Regions from separate parts of the Homo sapiens genome. Here region 1 is linked to region 2. The links come from fine-mapping of genetic effects on gene expression. A gene starts in region 2. The other region holds a variant in brackets. All regions are shown on one strand. Distances are from middle to middle.

Region 1 (8,853 bases), 110 kb after region 2:
GCTGACTCTGCCCCGCGCATCCGGTACCCCAGGATTACTACTTCTTCTTGGCGAGCAATTGGCGAAGCGCGGGCGGCGTGTCCATAGAAATGGACAGCTACGAAAAGATCTACAACCTCGAGTCCGCGTACGAGCTGCCGGAGCGCATTTTCCTGGACAAGGGCACTGAGTACAGCTTCGCCATCTTCCTGTCGGCGCAGGGCCACTCGTTCCGGACGCAGTCAGAACTCGGTCTGCGCGGGACCAGAGTGGAGCCCGAAGGGCGGGGCGAGGGCTACCAGAATCTGGGAGCCTGGGGGGCGGGGACACCATCGGAGGGGCGGGGCCTGTCTGTGAGGGAGGCCTTAACCCCGTTTACTGCCCGGAGCAGGCACCGCCTTCCAGCTGCATAGCCAGGTGGACGTGGGCGTGGTGCTGGCCGACCCCGGCTGCATCGAGGCCTCGGTGAAGCAGGAGGTCCTGATTAATCGCAACTCGGTGCTATTTTCGGTGAGGCCCCCCGGGGAGTTGGGATCAAGGGAGGTTTTGTTTTTTTTTTTTTTTTTTTTTTTTGGAGACAGGGTCTTGCTCTGTCGCTCAGGCTGGAGTGCCAGTGGAGCGATCACTGCATTCTTGGCCTCCTGGGCTCAAGCGATCCTCCTCCCTCAACCTCCTGAGTAGCTGGGACTGCAGGCACGCACCACAGTGCCCAGTGAACTTTTTGTTTTTCTTTTGAGACGGAGTCTTGCTCAGTCGCCCAGGCTGGAGTGCAATGGCACGATCTCGGCTCACTGTAACCTCTGCCTCCCAGATTCAACCGAGTCTCCTGCCTCAGCCTCCCTAGTAGCTGAGATTACAGGTGCATGCCACTACACCCAGCTAATTTTTTGTATTATTAGTAGCGATGGGGTTTTACCATGTTGGCCAGGCTAGTCTTGAACTCCTGACCTCAAATAATCTGCCCACTTTGGCCTCCCAAAGTGCTGGGATTACAAGCGTGAGCCACTGCACCCAGCCTTAACTTTTTATTTTTTGTAGAGACGGGGGTCTCCCTATGTTGCCCAGGCTGGCCTCGAATTCCTGGACTCAAGAGATCCTCATGCCTCGGCGTGAGGTGTGAGGTGTGAGGCATGAACCACCCTGTGCTTGGCCCCGTTAGCCTATTCCTTTTTTTTTTTTTTTTTTTTATTGATCATTCTTGGGTGTTTCTAGGACAATAGTGGAGGGAAGGTCAGCAGATAAACAAGTGAACAAAGGTCTCTGGTTTTCCTAGGCAGAGGACCCTGGGGCCTTCCGCAGTGTTTGTGTCCCTGGGTACTTGAGATTAGGGAGTGGTGATGACTCTTAACGAGCATGCTGCCTTCAAGCATCTGTTTAACAAAGCACATCTTGCACCGCCCTTAATCCATTTAACCCTGAGTGGACACAGCACATGTTTCAGAGAGCACAGGGTTGGGGGTAAGGTCACAGATCAACAGGATCCCAAGGCAGAAGAATTTTTCCCAGTACAAAACAAAATGAAAAGTCTCCCATGTCTACTTCTTTCTACACAGACACGGCAACCATCCGATTTCTCAATCTTTTCCCCACCCTTCCCCGCTTTCCACTCCACAAAACCGCCATTGTCATCATGGCCCGTTCTCAATGAGCTGTTGGGCATACCTCCCAGACGGGGTGGTGGCCGGGCAGAGGGGCTCCCCACTTCCCAGCAGGGGCGGCCGGGCAGAGGTGCCCCTCACCTCCCGGACGGGGCAGCTGGCCGGGCGGGGGGCTGACCCCCCCACCTCCCTCCCGGACGGGGCGGCTGGCCTGGCGGGGGCTGACCCCCACCTCCCTCCAGGACGGGGTGGCTGCCGGGCGGAGACGCTCCTCACTTCCCAGACAGGGTGGCTGCCGGGCGGAGGGGCTCCTCATTTCTCAGACGGGGCGGTTGCCAGGCGGAGGGTCTCCTCACTTCTCAGACAGGGCGGCTGGGCAGAGACGCTCCTCACCTCCCAGATGGGGTCGCGACCGGACAGAGGCGCTCCTCACATCCCAGACGGGGCAGCGGGGCAGAGGCACTCCCCACATCTCAGACGATGGGCGGCCGGGCAGAGACGCTCCTCACTTTCCAGAGTGGGCAGCCAGGCAGAGGGGCTCCTCACGTCCCAGACGATGGGCAGCCAGGCAGAGACACTCCTCACTTCCCAGACGGGGTGGCGGCCGGGCAGAGGCTGCACTCTTGGCACTTTGGGAGGCCAAGGCAGGCGGCTGGGAGGCGGAGGTTGTAGCAAGCCGAGATCACGCCACTGCACTCCAGCCTGGACACCATTGAGCACTGAGTGAACCAGACTCCGTCTGCAATCCCGGCACCTCGGGAGGCCGAGGCTGGCGGATCACTCGCGGTTAGGAGCTGGAGACCAGCCCGGCCAACACCCCGTTAGCCTATTCCTGAGTAGAAAATGGCAGCCTTCCGTTTTCCTACCAGCCACCACCTCGCCCCAGCTATGGGTTATTTGAACTGTTTGTTGGACTTTGGGGAGACCTGTTCACCCCTTCATTTCTGCCTCTCCCCTCCTTCAACCCCAGATTACGCTCAAGGATAAAAAGCTTTGCTATGACCAAGGCATTAGTGGACATCACCTTATGGAGACTTCCATGACGGTCAATGTGAGGTCCAAGCCTGGAGGGGAGGGTGCAGGATGGTGGGAAAGCCTGGGCCGGCGGGGATCACCATCTTCACCTGCTCCTACCCACAGGTGGTGGGTTCATCCGGGCTCTGCTTCCAGGAAACACACCTGGGGCCCCATATGCAAGTATTGGAGCTTGGGATACTGGGCCCTGGGAGGGGAAGGTTGGGGTCGGGTCTCAACAGGGCTAATCCCCCTGAGAATCCCACTAATGCATTCATAATTTCCTTTCTTCTCATTCTTTCTCAACATTCATCCACCCACCCACTACCACCCACTAACTCCTTTCATTCTTTTTTCTTTAAGACGGAGTTTCACTCTTGTTGCCCAGGCTGGAGTGCGGCGGCGCGGTCTTGGCTCACTTTGCCTCCTTGGCTCAAGTGATTCTCCTGCCTCAGCCTCCCAAGTAGCTGGGATTATAGGCGCCCGCCACCACGGCTGGCTAATTTTTTGTATTTTTAGTGGAGACAGAGTTTTTCCATGTTGGCCAGGATGGTCACAAACTCCTAAACTCAAATGATCCACCCGCCTCAGCCTCCCAAAGTGCTGGGATTCCAGGTGTGAGCCACCATGCCCGGCCTAACTCCTTTCATTCATTCACGTTTTCAGAAAGGGCCACCTTCCCAGTTGTGCAGGTTGCACACAAACTGGTATGTTCCCTCTGATAACTTTTCTTCAGAGGGAGAATAGAGTGAGCAACAGGGCCGTTTTTTTTTTGTTTTTTGTTTTTTTTTTAACGATGTCTCACTCTTGTCCCCCAGGCTGGAGTGCAATGGTGCAATCTCGGCTCACTGCAACCTCCACCTCCCGGGTTCAAGCGATTCTCCTGCCTCAGCCTCCCAAGTAGCTGGGATTACAGTTGCATACCACCATGCCTAGCTAATTTTTTATATTTTAAATAGAGACGGAGTTTCACCATGTTGGCCAGGCTGGTCTTGAACTCCTAACCTCAGGTGATCTGCCGGCCTTGGCCTCCCAAAGTGCTGGGATTACAGGTGTGAGCCACCGTGCCCGACCTAGGGCCACTTTTTGCAATTGGCACAAAGGTGGCATAAGGGCTGGCCTGGCCCTGCTTTCACATCTCTCTCTTCTTCTGCCCACTCACACATTCCTCATTCAGTTCTTTGGGTGCTTGGTGCTTCACTTGCTTATACACGTGATATCGCCTTTGCCCGGGGCAGACACTGAGGCTCAGAGAGGTGCAGAGTAACCCAGGGAGCTAATAAGTGGTAGAGGAGGGGCGTGCCCCAGAGTTCTTGTTCTCACCCATTTCCCTACCCACTCCCTGGCATGCAGATCCTGGTGTTCCTCCCTCCTGGCTTAGAATGACCTTGGGCAGTCAAAAGGGGTTGTAACAGCCCCCACCTCCTTAGAGTACATGAGATTTCATGTGCTAGACTGAATAAACAAGGAGGAAGTGTGATTGCATCAGGGTGGGCAAGGGGGAACGTGGTGGGATGAGCTCGGAGCAGTGATGGGGCAGAGTAAGCGGAGCCCTTATGGGCCATGGTATGTGAGCTGGCTCCTCGGGAGGGCTCTAAGCAGAGGAGGGACTCGGGTGTCCCCAGGGCCCATCTGGCTGCATGGGGTGGGGGGACATCAATGAGGGGACTGGAAGCAGGGAGACTCTGGAAGAGACAAGGTTGGACAAAACAGGGTGGGGGCAAAGGAGTTGGAGGTTTAGGGGAGAGAACAGGCAGGCTCTCGGTCTTTTTTTTTTTTTTTTTGAGACAGAGTCCTGCTCTGTCACCCAGGCTGGAGTGCAGTGGTGCAGTCTTGGCCTCTACCTCCCTGGTTCAAGCGATTCTCCAGCCTCTGCCTCCCGAGTAGCTGGGATTACAGGCATGCACCA[CCA/C]CACACCCAGCTAATTTTTTGTATTTTTAGTAGAGACAGGGTTTTACTGTGCTGGCCAGGCTAGTCTCGAACTCCTGGACTCAAGTGATCAGCCCGCCTCGGCCTCCCGAAGTTCTGGGATTACAGGCATGAGCCACTGCACCAGGCCGTGTTAATGATATTAATGACCATATTGCCCTTGGGGGTGAGGGAGAGCCAGGCAGCTGGTGGTGGTGTTTGTGGGAGGGGGACTGTCCTTCCTGCCCCTTACCCCTCCAGGGGCCTGAGGAGACCCTGGCCACCCCTGTGAGCCTTTTTTCCTCCCACCGAGGGCAACCTGATGGTGCCAGTGTTCATTGGCTGCCCCCCAGGCAAGCGCCTGGCCTTCGACATCACCTACACGCTGGAATACAGCCGCCTGAAGAACAAACACTACTTTGACTGCGTTAACGTGAACCCGGAGATGCCCTGCTTTCTCTTCCGGGACAGTGTGTGTCCAGTCCCTTCCCCTGCACAGTTCACTGCCCTCTTGCCCCCACTACTTTGTGCTCTCCCTCCCCATTCCTCTCCCCGCAGACTACCCACCCTTTTTCCTGCGGCATCTCACTTTCCCCCGTCTCGGTCCTCAGCTTCTCGGGCCAAGCTAATTTCTTCTTCTGGTCTCAATCCCCTCCAACCCCATAGTTTTCTACCCCTTCTTCTTGATTCAAGATTTGGTGACAGGAGACTCCGGCAGTTTCCAGGGCAGGTAAAGGCGTGGCCAGCTTGCAGCTAGGGCAGGTGGAGGGAGTGGAAGGAGATGGGTGCAGGACTCGAGACCCGGAGGCCAGTCTGTGTGCACTTCTGTCCCTGGTAGCTATGTTCTGCTGGTGGTGGGTGGCGGGCCCACACTGGACAGCCTCAAGGACTACAGTGAGGACGAAATCTACCGCTTCAACAGCCCCCTGGACAAGTAATCCCCGTGGGGTCCCACGTGTAATCCACCTTGCTTCCCCTGGAGGCCTTTCCCACTTCCAAGCCAAGCCCACCTCGCAAGCCCCCACCTCTGCGTCTCAGGCCCTGCCCACAGTGGGGCTCTTAGGATCTCACAGGCAAACTCCTGCCCGCCCCTAACACCATGTCCCCTGCACCCACCTGTGGCCTCCCTCCACACTGACCACTGAGGTCATACCTCCCCTACACCGCCCCCCAACCCCTGGCTGAGATGACCTGGGCCTGCACAGGACCAACAGCCTTATCTGGACCACGAGGACCACAAGGACCACCAAAGACTCAGCCTTTCACATCATGTCCCACGAGAGCCCAGGCATCGAGTGAGTGCGTAGCCTGGCCCCTCTTGGCCCCCATCTGTCGGTAGTCCATTGGGCCCACCTATCCTTTCTGCCCCTAGGAGGCCTCTTGATCCCCAAGTCACACTGACTGCCTTTGTGTTACTTAAATGGGGCTGAACTTTGCACAAGCTGAAGTCTCTGCCTGGAATGCTGCTCCCTCCGACTCTTTTCAGGCCTTAGGCAGATGCCCCTTCAGCCAGGAGGACTTTTCTGTTTCAAGATGGGACAATTGTCCCTTCATGGCTCCTATGGCCTCTTGGGGCTCTCCCATCCTGGCCCTGAGCCCCCTACCTGTGCGTCCCCATCCCAGAGTGGACAGCTCTGGGCAGTCACTGTCTGGTGTGGGGTCTGTCTCTCCTCCAGAACTGGGTCCTGAATAGACTCATAAATTTGTTTTTATTTTTGAGATGGAGTTTTGCTCTTTGTTGCCCAGGCTGGAATGCAGTGGCAAGATCTCAGCTCACTGCAACCTCCACCTTCCAGGTTCAAGCGATTCTCCTGTCTCAGCCTCCTGTTTATTTTTTGAGACAGGCTCCCTCTGTGGCCCACCAGGCTGGAGTGCAGTGGCACAATCTCAGCTCACTGCAGCCTCTGCCTCCTGGGTTCAAGCAATTCTCCTGCCTCAGCCTCCCAAGTAGCTGGGATTACAGGCACCCGCCACCATGCCTGGCTAATTTTTGTATTTTTAGTAGGGATGGGGTTTCACCACGTTGGTCAGGCTGATCTTGAACTCCTGACCTCAGGTGATCCGCCTGCCTCAGCCTCCCAAAGTACTGGGATTACAGGCACATGCCACCATGCCCGGTTAATTTTTGTATTTTTTTTTCTAGTAGAGACGGGGTTTCACCATGTTGGCCAGGCTGGTTAACATAGCATGTATTGAATGAAAGAATGAACAAATGAATAAATCAATTCGTGGCAGGCATTTATTGATATCTGAATGGGGGTATTAATGAATGAATAAAACAATGGAGAAACAAATTCATATATAGGGGCTCAGTAAGTTTCATTCAATGAAAGGAAAAAAATGAAGCCATGAGCAAATGAAGGCAGTGAATGAACGAACAACTTGCACCTAGTCAGAATTTAACCTGCTTTATTTTTTATTTTTATTTATTTTTTTGAGACAGAGTCTTGCTCCGTCACCCAGGCTGGAGTGCAGTAGTACAATCTCAGCTCACTGCAACCTCTGCCTCTTGGGTTCAAGTAATTCTCCCAACTCAGCCTCCTGTGTAGCTGGGATTACAGGTGCATGCCACCATGCCCCGCTAATTTTTGTATTTTTTGTAGAGACGGGGTTTCACCATATTGGTCAGTCTGGTCTTGAACTCCTGACCTCAAGTGATCCACCTGCCTCGGCCTCCCAAAGTGCTGGTATTATAGGTGTGAACCACTATGCCTGGCCTAACCTGCATTTATTGGATAATGAATAAAGAAGGGAATAAATGAAAGATGTGACTTTGTACCTAGTAAGTGCTCAAGCTATATTTATGGGATAAAGGAATGCAAGCAGCAAAGAATGAATAAGGATTTGGCATATGATAGATACACAGCCTGTAATCTGGATGGATGCACAGTGACAGAGGAATTGACAGATGGAGGTGTGAAGGCAGGAGGAAATGAATGAGTAGACAACCTGTGGCACAGTAGGCGTTCAGTCAGCATGAATGAATGAGTGAATGAAGGAATGAATGAGGGAAGGCATGAGATTGCACCCATTTGGTCCTCACCGAAAACATTGGGTGGAGGAAGAAATTGGGAGTTGGCACAGACTAGGCATGGTTGGTAGCACAACTGCCTGATCTTTGGCTTGCAGGTGGCTCTGTCTGGAGAATGCCCCATGCTATGACAATGTTCCCCAAGGCATCTTTGCCCCTGAATTCTTCTTCAAGGTGTTGGTGAGCAATAGGTGAGCCAGGCAAGTGGCCCAGGTGCGGGTCAGGGGCTGCCCATGGAATGCCTGGCTTCTCCTCTAATCCTGGATCCCCTCCCAACCCCTGCAGAGGAGTGGACACGAGCACCTACTGCAACTACCAGCTCACCTTCCTGCTGCACATCCACGGGCTGCCACTCAGTCCCAAGCGGGCCCTTTTCATCATCATGGTGAGTGGCTGTCCGGGAGCTGCCCTACTGGGTGGGCAGGGGCCCACGCCTCCATACCTATGCTTGTTATACCTTCGCTCATTCATTCCTTTATTCACTCATCTAGCCATGCTGACTGAACGCCTGCCATGCCACAGGCTGTCTACTCATTCATTTCCTCCTGCTGTCATGCCTCCATCTGTCAATTTCCCTGTCACTGTGGATGCAGATTGTGGACTGTGTACCTTATCATGTGCCAACTCCTTACTCATTCTTTGCTCCCTGCAGGTGTCAGCTAGCGTGTTTGTGGGCCTGGTGATCTTCTACATCGCCTTCTGCCTCCTGTGGCCCCTCGTGGTGAAGGGCTGCACGATGATCCGGTGGAAGATAAACAACCTCATTGCCTCAGAATCCTACTACACCTACGCCTCCATTTCCGGAATCTCGAGCATGCCGTCTCTGAGACATTCCAGGATGGGCTCCATGTTCAGCTCCAGGATGACAGAGGACAGGGCTGAACCCAAGGAAGCCGTGGAGAGACAGTTGATGACCTGAGTGTCCCACCTGCCCCAGCCCCCAGTTACTGTCACGCCTCTCTTATGAGGCCCATCTTGAAGATGCAACCTGTCACCCAGCCCAGGCCTCTCTTTCTGTTTTGCTTGATGTTTACTTCTCGTTCAGACTCAAATAAAGCCTTTTTTCAGGACCAGCAGTGGGCTCTCTTAAAAGCTCGAGTTCAGAAGGTTTGTACCAGCATAGCTGCACATTAAAATATCATAAACCTGGCTGGGCATGGTGGTTCATGCCGGTAATCCCAGCACTTCGGGAGATCGAAGGAGGCAGATCACTTAAGGTCAGGAGTTTGAGACCACCCTGGCCCACATGGTGAAAACTCGTAACCCTGTCTCTACTACAAATACAAAAAATTAGCTGGGCATGGTGGTGCGTACCTGTAATTC
Region 2 (8,853 bases):
GTGGGGAAGGGAGCCCGGGGTGGCGGAGGCAGTGACAGGGGAGGACAGAGGGAGACTGAGCCCGAAGGCTGGTGGCCAAAGGACAGGCACAGGAGAGGCAAAAACAGGGCAGATGGGGGAGGACAGAATGGAGCCCCCTCAGCAGATGGGGGAGAGAGGGAGAGAGACAAGTAGGAGGACAAAAGACACCCCTGGAGACCAGAAAGAGCTGCGGAGGGCAGGTTGGGGCCGGGGGTGGTGGGGCCGGGTGGTGTTCCCCAGAGACCCTTCTGCCAGCTTCTTCCCCCTCCCCCATCAGAGTACTTGGGGCCAGAACAGGGAGAGAATGAGGGAGAGAAAACTCACCTCGACAGGTTTCCCACATGACTTCAGGAGTCCCTAAAACCCCCAACCAAGAACAAAACAAAACAGTAAATGACTAACACCTACTCCCCTCCAGCCCCTTCCCTTTCCCAAAAGGCCCCAGCAGCAAGACAAATGGAAGTCAGACTCCAGGGTGGACTGCCCACCAAGCTTCAAGAGAGGAACAGAGCCCAAGGGGCATGTGGATCGACTCAGGGCAGGGGTGAGTTACTAGATCCAGAGAGGGCGAGAGGGTCACACAGCACTTCCCTCCTCTAAAAAGGTATAAGCCATAAGCAAAGACATGGCTGCCAAACTGCCTGGGTTCGATGCCCAGCTCTGCTCCTTCTGAGCTGTGTGACACTGGGCAAGGGATTCAACCTCTCTGGGCCTCATTTTCCTCATGGGGAAAATGGAGCTCACACTAGCGCCTGCTTCGGAGGGTTTTGTGAGGGTTAAGTGAGTGAATACATGTAAAGCCATCACACCAGTGCCCGGCATCTAGTGAGCACTCAGTAAACACGTGAACTATTGCTATTATTTTTAGGGAGGTGCAAAGTGGGAGGCTGGGGGACACGTCCCCCCACCTACCTGGATTTTCCGGCTTCTCTCCTCTTCACTCTCTAACTCCAACAATTCATCAATGTTGATCTCATCGGGCATGTCTGCCTCCTAGGGCCAGGGAGGGAGGGGTGCTTAGGATCCCCTTCCCTCCCTCCCTCGCCTTTGTCCAGGGCTCTGCAGGAGCCCCACCGGCCCCAGGGCCCAGCTGGCGGGTTCTGGAGCATTAATGTGGCAGTCCGGGACAGCACTGCCAAGACGGGACATCTGGGTGTTGGGGGGGAGGGGTGACAGATGGGCTGAGAGAGCCCCGGGGCCCTGTACCAGCCCGATGCCTGGGCCCATGGGCCCCGGGAGCCTCGGGGCTGGCACGGGTCTCTCGCCTTGGCTCTAGTTCCCACAGAGGAAAACAGGCCTAGTGGAGTCCTGGAATGTCAGATTCTGGGATTCGGGAGAGGAGCTGGCTTCTGCCCTTTCAAGGAAAAGTCTTAGCACTAGGTGCAGGGGAGGAGAGGCTGGCAGCCAGCAGCCAGCTGGGGCGGCCCCTTCCCCCAGGGGACAGGAAGGGAGGGGACAGGAAGGGAGGGGACGGCTTGGGCCAGCCCCCAGAGGGCCAAAATGCAGCCTGGTGAGACCGAAGGGAGGACCACCGAGGCCCCTCAAGGTGGGTGGGTGGGATGAGTCATGGCTCAACTCAGCTGCTAAGAGCGGGGCGCTGAGTGTGGCCTCTACAGGCAGTGGCCCAAGCGCAGGCTGGCTCAGTACCCCTGCTGGGAATAGGACCCAGCTGTCCCCAGCTGTCGAGGGAGCAAGAGAGCCTTGGGGTTATGAATCCTTTCCTCCCCAACCCAAAGTCCGGCTGTCGGCTTCAGGCCTGGGGCTTCAGGGCTGGATGGTCCTGGTTCATGTGTGGTGAAGGGGCTTCAGCAAGGACACAGGTGTGTGAGTCTCTGCCAGGGCCACAGCCTGATGCCAAGGGCCTGGGGCTGGCCGAGGATGCAGAGGGACCTGGCATCGTGCAGTGGCTTCGTATAGTGGACTGTGGTCCTGCAGGTGTGAGGTGTGTGGCTCTGGCTTGGGTGTGTGACACATCAGCATGTGTCCACAGTCAGCTGTGGGGCCCACCACCTGAGAATGGCCTCATAGATGCCACCTGCCACTAGCAACCAGATTGGTTCACCTGTATGGGCCCAGGTGTGAGTCTGAGAACAGAGGGACTGCATGTCACCATGGGAGAAGGGCCATGCCTTCCACCATTGTCGCACCATGAAGAGGAGGACTCGTGGGTCCTGTGTACACTGTAGCATACAGAAGTCACAGAAGGCCAGGCGCAGTGGCTCACGCCTGTAATCCTGACATTTTGGGAGGCCGACAAGAGAGAATTGCTTGAGCCTAGGAGTTCAAGATCAGCCTGAGCAACATAGCGAGGCCCCATCTCTTTTTCTTTTTTCTTTTTTTTGAGACAAAGTCTCCTTCTGTCACCTAGGGTGGAGTACAATGGCGCGATCTTGGCTCACTGCAACCTCCGCCTCCCGGGTTCAAGTGATTCTCCTGCCTCAGCCTCCCAAGTAGCTGGGATTACAGCTGCCTGCCACCATGCCCGGCTAATTTTTGTAATTTTAGTAGAGACAGGGTTTCACCATGTTGGCCAGGCTAGTCTCGTACTCCTGACCTCAAGTGATCTGCCCACCTTGGCCTCCCAAAGTTCTGGGATTACAGGCGTGAGCCACTGTGCTCGGCCAATGAGGCCCCACCTCTAAGGAAAAGAAAAAAGAAGTCACTGAAAGTGTGACTTCAAGCAGAAACTCAAGTGATGAAGTACCTGTGTGTGTCAATACATGTAGCTGTGGCTTAGGCTCTTGTGTGCCTGTGAGCAGCGGTGGGTTCTGCAGTTGTATGTCCACCTGTTCCTATAGCTTACAGTTTTTTGTTTGTTTGTTTGTTTTTGAGACGGAGTTTCGCTCTTGTTGCCCAGGCTGGAGGGCAATGGCGGGATCTCGGCTCACCGCAACCTCCTCCTCCCGGGTTCAAGCGATTCTCCTCCCGAGTAGCTGGGATTACAGGCATGTGCCACCACACCCGGCTAATTTTGTATTTTTTAGTAGAGACGGGATTTCTCCATGTTGATCAGGCTGGTCTCAAACTCCTGACCTCAGGTGATCCGCCCGCCTCGGCCTCCCAAAGTGCTGGGATTACAGGCGTGAGCCACCGTGCCCGGTGCTTACACAGTTTTATGTCTGGGTGTAGTTATAAATTCTGTTGGGTTTTGTTTGTTTTTGAGACACGGTCTCGCTCTGTTGCCCAGGCTGGAGTGCAGTGGTGCAATCTTGGCTCACTGTGACCTTGGCCTCTCAGGCTCAAGCAATCCTCCCACCTCAGCCTCCTGAGGAGCTGAGATTACAAGTGCGTGCATGCCACCACGCCCGGCTAAGTTTTAAGATTTTTGGTAGAGACAGGTTTTCCCCATGTTGCCCAGGCTGGTGTTGAACTCCTGACGTCAAGCAATCCTCCTGCCCCGGCCTCACAAAATGCGTGAGCCACTGTGCTGGGCCAATTTCTGTTGTTTTATGTCTTTGAGTGGCTGCGGATCAGCGCTTGTGCTTGAAGGTGGTCAGTTTTTTCTTTAGGAGATAAGGAAGGGCCGTAACTTGAGTCATTTTGTGTTCCAGTGGGGTTGTGCTGTGTCTGCCTACGGCTGTGGCCCATGCCGCTGTGTCTGCGGGTGGCTGTGACTGTAGCATATGTTGAACTGTAGGTGACCCCCCCCCAGCCCCCGCTTGTGTCCTTGTGGGTTTGTGCATGGCTGTTACTTCTGGGCTGTGTCCGTGAGTGGCTATAGCTTCCTTCACTGTGCACATCTGTGTCTGCTTTTGCTTCCTTTGCCGTGGGTCTCTGTGTGGCTGTATCTCCCCTGTCACCATGTCTGTGTTTGGCTTTATGACACCCCCCTTCCCCCACTCTTTCTCCAGACGTGGCGGTTTCAGCTCAACTTAGCCTCCTCCCTCCTCATGCTAAACCCCTGGCCCTCCACAGGCGTTTGGACACATCTCTGGAGACCCAAGTCTTTGTGTGTTGCTCTCGGTGTGTCCACAAGCACAATGCCATAGAGCACGGATGGCCAGGCCAATGAGTGCCCGGCCCTGGGGCGCTCGTCCTCTTGTGCAGACCAGGCTGGCCGTGCACCAGCGAGTGTGCACCGAGACCCCAAGGGCGTGGGGTCTCCGCGCCCGGGCTCTATCTGTCCCCGACCACCCCCGAGCCCTCCCCGGGCTCACCATGCCGCGGTACAGCTCCTCCAGGCGCCCGTCGATCCACTTCTCCACGTCCAGCCGCCGCTGCAGCTCCCGCCGGTCATACTTGACGGTGACGCGCGCGTGCCGCTTCTGCAGCCCCCCGGGACTGCCCCCTGGCCCGCGGGCCCGCGATGGAGACTGCAGCTTGCTCAGCACGCGCTTGCCCAGCCGCTGAGCTGCCATCGCGCTGCTGGACCCAGCCTGGCCCCGCGCTGTGCGCCTTCGCCTCGCGCCCCGGGTGCTTCTTACGGGCCAGGGCGGGGCTAGCCGGGGGCGGGGGCTCGGGCTCGCCGGGAGGTCTGCCCCACCCCGGCCGCCTCAGGCCTCAGTTTCCCCGTCTGCAGTGCGAGAGTAGGCCGCTGCGTCGGCTTGAGGCACGCAGTCGTGCGAAGTTGAGGTATGGGCGGGGACCCAGAGTCCCGGGCGGGTCCCTGCATCGGGGGCTCCCGGGCCGGGATCCTGTGGGGCGGGGGCCTGGGACAGACACTCGGGACCCGGCCTGTCTGCGCCCTCTGGCGGTGGCGGGGTGGGGGGCTGTTGGTGCGGGAGCGCCTGCGCCGCTGTCGCTGTAGAAGGTCGAGCGGTCACTTGTTCCTTCGTTCATTCATTCACTCATCCATCCATTTGTTTGTTCACTCATTCCGTTCAACGAATTTTTTTTTTTTTGAGTCGATGTCTCTCTTTGTCGCCCAGGCTGGAGTACAATGGCGCGATCTCGGCTCACCGCAACGTCCGCCTCCCAGGTTCAAGCGATTCTCCTGCCTCAGCCTCCGAAGTAGCTGGGATTACAGGGATGCACCACAACACCCGGCTAATTTTTGTATTTTTAGTAGAGACGGGATTTCGCCATGTTGGCCAGGCTGGCCTCGAACTCCTGACCTCAAGTGATCTGCCTGCCTCCGCCTCCCAAAGTGCTGGGATTACAGGCGTGAGCCACCGCCACTGGCCCGGTTCAACGAATATCTATTAAGTATCCACTCTATACCAGACACTGCTTTACGCTCCAGGGATAGAGCAGGGAACAAAACAGACAAAACCAGTCCCACGCAGTTGACAGTTGTAGCCGGGATACATGAGAAACACAGTAAGTACGGTATTATACAGTTTATTATCATATAAGTGCTTTGGAGAAATATAAAGCAGAGAAGGAGAAATGGAGTGAGGGTAAGGTTGCAATTTTAGCGAGGGTGGCCAGGGAAGTCCCTTACTTCAAAACAGTCTTCTCACTTCTAATTATAAGCAGCAATAATTATACTCTAAAATTTAAATGTGGCTGGGCGCAGTGGCTCACTCCTGTAATCCCAGAACTTTGGGAGGCCAAGGAGGGTGGATCACGAGGTCAGGAGTTCAAGACCAGCCTGGCCAACATGGTGAAACTCCATCTCTACTAAAAATACAAAAATTAGCTGGGCCTGGTGGCACATGCCTGTAATCCCAGCTACTCGGAAGGCTGAGGCAGGAGAATCGCTTGAACCCGGGAGGTGGAGGTTGCAGTGAGCCAAGATAGCACCATTGCACTCCAGCCTGGGCAACAAGAGCGAGACTCTGTCTCAAAATAAATAAATAAATAAAATAATAATAAATAATTTTTTTAAAAAGGCCAGGCATGGTGGCTCATGCCTGTAATCCCAGCACTTTGAGAGGCCGAGGTGGGCAGATCACGAGGTCTGGAATTCAAGACCAGCCAGGCCAACATGATGAAACCCCATCTTTACTAAAAATACAAAAAAAAAAAAAAAAAAGCCAGGCGTAGTGGTGTGCACCTGTAATTGCAGCTACTGGGGAGGCTGAGGCAGGAAAATTGCTTGAACCCAGGAGGCAGAGATTGCGGTGAGCCAAGATCGCACCACTGCACTCCAGCCTGGGTGACAGAGCAAGACTCCATCTCAAAAAAAAAAAAAAAAATTGTAGAGACAGGGTCTCCCTATGTTGCCTAGGCTGTTCTCCAATTCCTGGGCTCAAGCGATCCTCCCACCTCGGCCTCCCAAGGTGCTGGGATTATAGGCATGAGCCACCTCACTCCACCAGCCAGCCATAATGTAAAACTTTTGAGTTTCAAAGAACATCATCAAGAAAGTGAAGAGACAACCCATGGAATGGGAGGAAAAAAATTGCAGTCATGAAACTCATAAGGTGCTGGGACGAGCCACCACACCTGGCCAAACTATACACTTTAAAAAGGTGAGTTGGGCCAGGCACAGTGACTCACGCCTGTAATCCCAGCACTTTGGGAGGGCAAGGCGGATGGATCATCGGAGGTCAAGAGTTAGAGACCAGCCTGGCCAACATGGTGAAACCCCATCTCCACTAAAAATACAAAAATTAGCTGGGCATGGGGGCACATGCCTATAATCCCAACTACTCAGGAGGCTGAGGCAGGAGAATCGCTTGAACCTGGGAGGGGGATGTTGCAGTGAGCTGAGATCATGCCATTGCACTCCATCCTGGGCAACAAAAGTGAAACTCCATCTCTAAATAAATAAAGGGTGAGTTGTATGGTATGTGAGTTATATCTCAATAAGACTGTGTTTTTTTTTTTTTTTTTTTTTTTTTTTGAGGCAGAATCTCGCTCTGTTGGCCAGGCTGGAGTGCACTGGCATGATCTCAGCTCACTGCAACCTCTGCCTCCCAGGCTCAAGCAATTCTCCTGCCTCAGCCTCCCGAGTAGCTGGGATTACAGGGGTGTGCCACCACGCCTGGCTAATTTTTGTATTTTTAGTAGAAACGGGGTTTCACCATGTTGGCCAGGCTGGTCTTGAACTCCTGACCTCAGGTAATCCACCTGCCTAGGCCTCCCAAAGTGCTGGGATTACAGGCGTGAGCCACCGTGCCCGGCTTCAATAAAGCTGTTTTATTTCAAAATTAAAAACAGGCCAGGCGCCATGGTTCACGTCTGTAATCCCAGCACTTTGGGAGGCTGAGGTGAGTGGATTATCTGAGGTCAGGAGTTTGAGACCAGCCTGACCAACATGGTGAACCCGTCTCTACTAAAAATGCAAAAAAAATTAGCCAAGCATGGTGGTGCACCCCTGTAATCCCAGCTACTCAGGAGGCTGAGGTGGGAGAATTGCTTGAACCTGGGAGGCGGAGGCTGCAGTGAGCTGAGATCGTGCCATCACACTCCAGCCTGGGCGACAGAGAAAGACCCCATCTCTAAAAAAACAAAAATAAAAAACAACTATCCATAGCTACCCATGACCTTCAGTCTAAAGGCCAAACTCTGGTTTAGCAGTCCCATCTCTGCCAGGGACAGTCCCATTTCAGCACCAGCACCTTTCACTCGCAGTTCCCTCTGCCAGGAAGGTTCTTCCCTAGAATATCATCAGGGCTCACTCCTTCACCTCCCTCCAATGTCACTGTTCAGTGAGGTCTTCCCTGGCCACGCTATTTCACACTGCAACTCTCGTGCCCCTCATCCAGCTCTGTTTGATACATAACACTTACCACTTTCTAACATTATATATATATATATATATATATATATTTTTTTTTTTTTTTTTTTTTTTTTTTTTTTTTTTTTGAGTTGGAGTCACCTCAGGCTGGAGTATAGTATTGTGATCATGGCTCACTGCAACCTCTGCCTCCTGGGTTCAAGAGATTCTCCTGCTTCAGCCTCCTGAGTAGCTGGGACTACAGTTATACACCACTGTGTCCGCTTACTTTTTATATTTTCAGTAGAGATGGGGTTTCACCATGTTGGTCAGGCTGGTCTCGAACTCCTGACCTCAGACGATCTGCCCGTCTTGACCTCCCAAAGTGCTGGAATTACAGGCATGAGCCACCATGCCTGGCCTCTAACATTATATATAATGTACTCATTTAATGTATTGTCCATGCCAGGCGTGGTGGCTCACACCTGTAATCTCAGCACTATAGGATGCTGAGGCAGGAGGAGCAATTACATCCAGGAGTTCAAGATCAGCTTGGGCAACATAGTGAGACCCTGTCGCTACAAAAAAAAAAAAAAAAAAAAAAAGCCAGGTGCAATAGTACATGCTTGTAGTCCCAGTTACTCTGGAGGCTGAGTTGGGAGGATCACTTGAGTCCAGGAGATGGAGGACGCAGTGAACTGTGATTGCACCACTGCACTCCAGCCTGGGTGATGGAGTGAGACCCTGTCTCAAAAAGAAAAATGTCATATTTTCTGTTCTGTGCAGTGACAGAAAAAAAAAATTATTGTCTGTTTCCCAACTAGTAGCATACTAAAGGCAGGGGGACAGGACTGGTCCACTTTGGGTACAGGCAAAAAGAGGGTGCACTGTCTGTAGAGAATTTAAAAATAAAAAGCTGACCAAGGCCGGGCATGGTGGCTCATGCCTGTAATCCCAGCACTTTGGGAGGCCAAGGCAGGCAGATCACCTGAGGTCAGGAGTTCAAGACCTGCCTGGCCAACATGGTGAAACCCCATCTCCATAAAAATACAAAAATTAGCCGGGTGTGGTGGTACAAGCCTGTAATCCCAGCTACTTGGGAGACTGAGGCAGGAGAATCGCTTGAACCCGGGAGGTGGAGGTTGCGATGAGCCAAGATCGTGCCATTGCACTGCAGCCTAGGCGACAGACAGAGTGAGACTCCATTTCAAAAAAACTGACCAAAAGTTGGTCTAATTTTTATTTTACTTTGCAGTGACATTTCTAAACAGTGTCAATGATAAAAT

What was found. PIP is the estimated chance that this variant, and not a neighbour inherited with it, causes the effect.
Region 1: its variant is fine-mapped to the expression of PPP1R14A in whole blood (TOPMed, PIP 0.97).

The regions. Positions count from the first base shown.
Region 1 is chr19:38,362,344-38,371,196 of GRCh38, forward strand. CATSPERG (catsper channel auxiliary subunit gamma) reads left to right here. Exons shown (of 29, transcript NM_021185.5): 19 at 33-231; 20 at 371-489; 21 at 2,548-2,628; 22 at 2,718-2,774; 23 at 4,813-4,969; 24 at 5,166-5,229; 25 at 5,338-5,433; 26 at 5,705-5,794; 27 at 7,629-7,721; 28 at 7,816-7,915; 29 at 8,183-8,600. The coding sequence ends at 8,449. Among named protein-coding and RNA genes, the nearest start is that of PSMD8, 7.8 kb to the right of the region's middle. RefSeq lists an enhancer at 1-583 and a silencer at 316-395. The variant CCA/C (reference allele first, on the strand shown) is at 4,501.
Region 2 is chr19:38,251,961-38,260,813 of GRCh38, forward strand. PPP1R14A (protein phosphatase 1 regulatory inhibitor subunit 14A) reads right to left here and starts at 4,414. Exons shown (of 4, transcript NM_033256.3): 1 at 4,179-4,414; 2 at 934-1,014; 3 at 346-378. The coding sequence starts at 4,379. RefSeq lists a silencer at 4,206-4,393.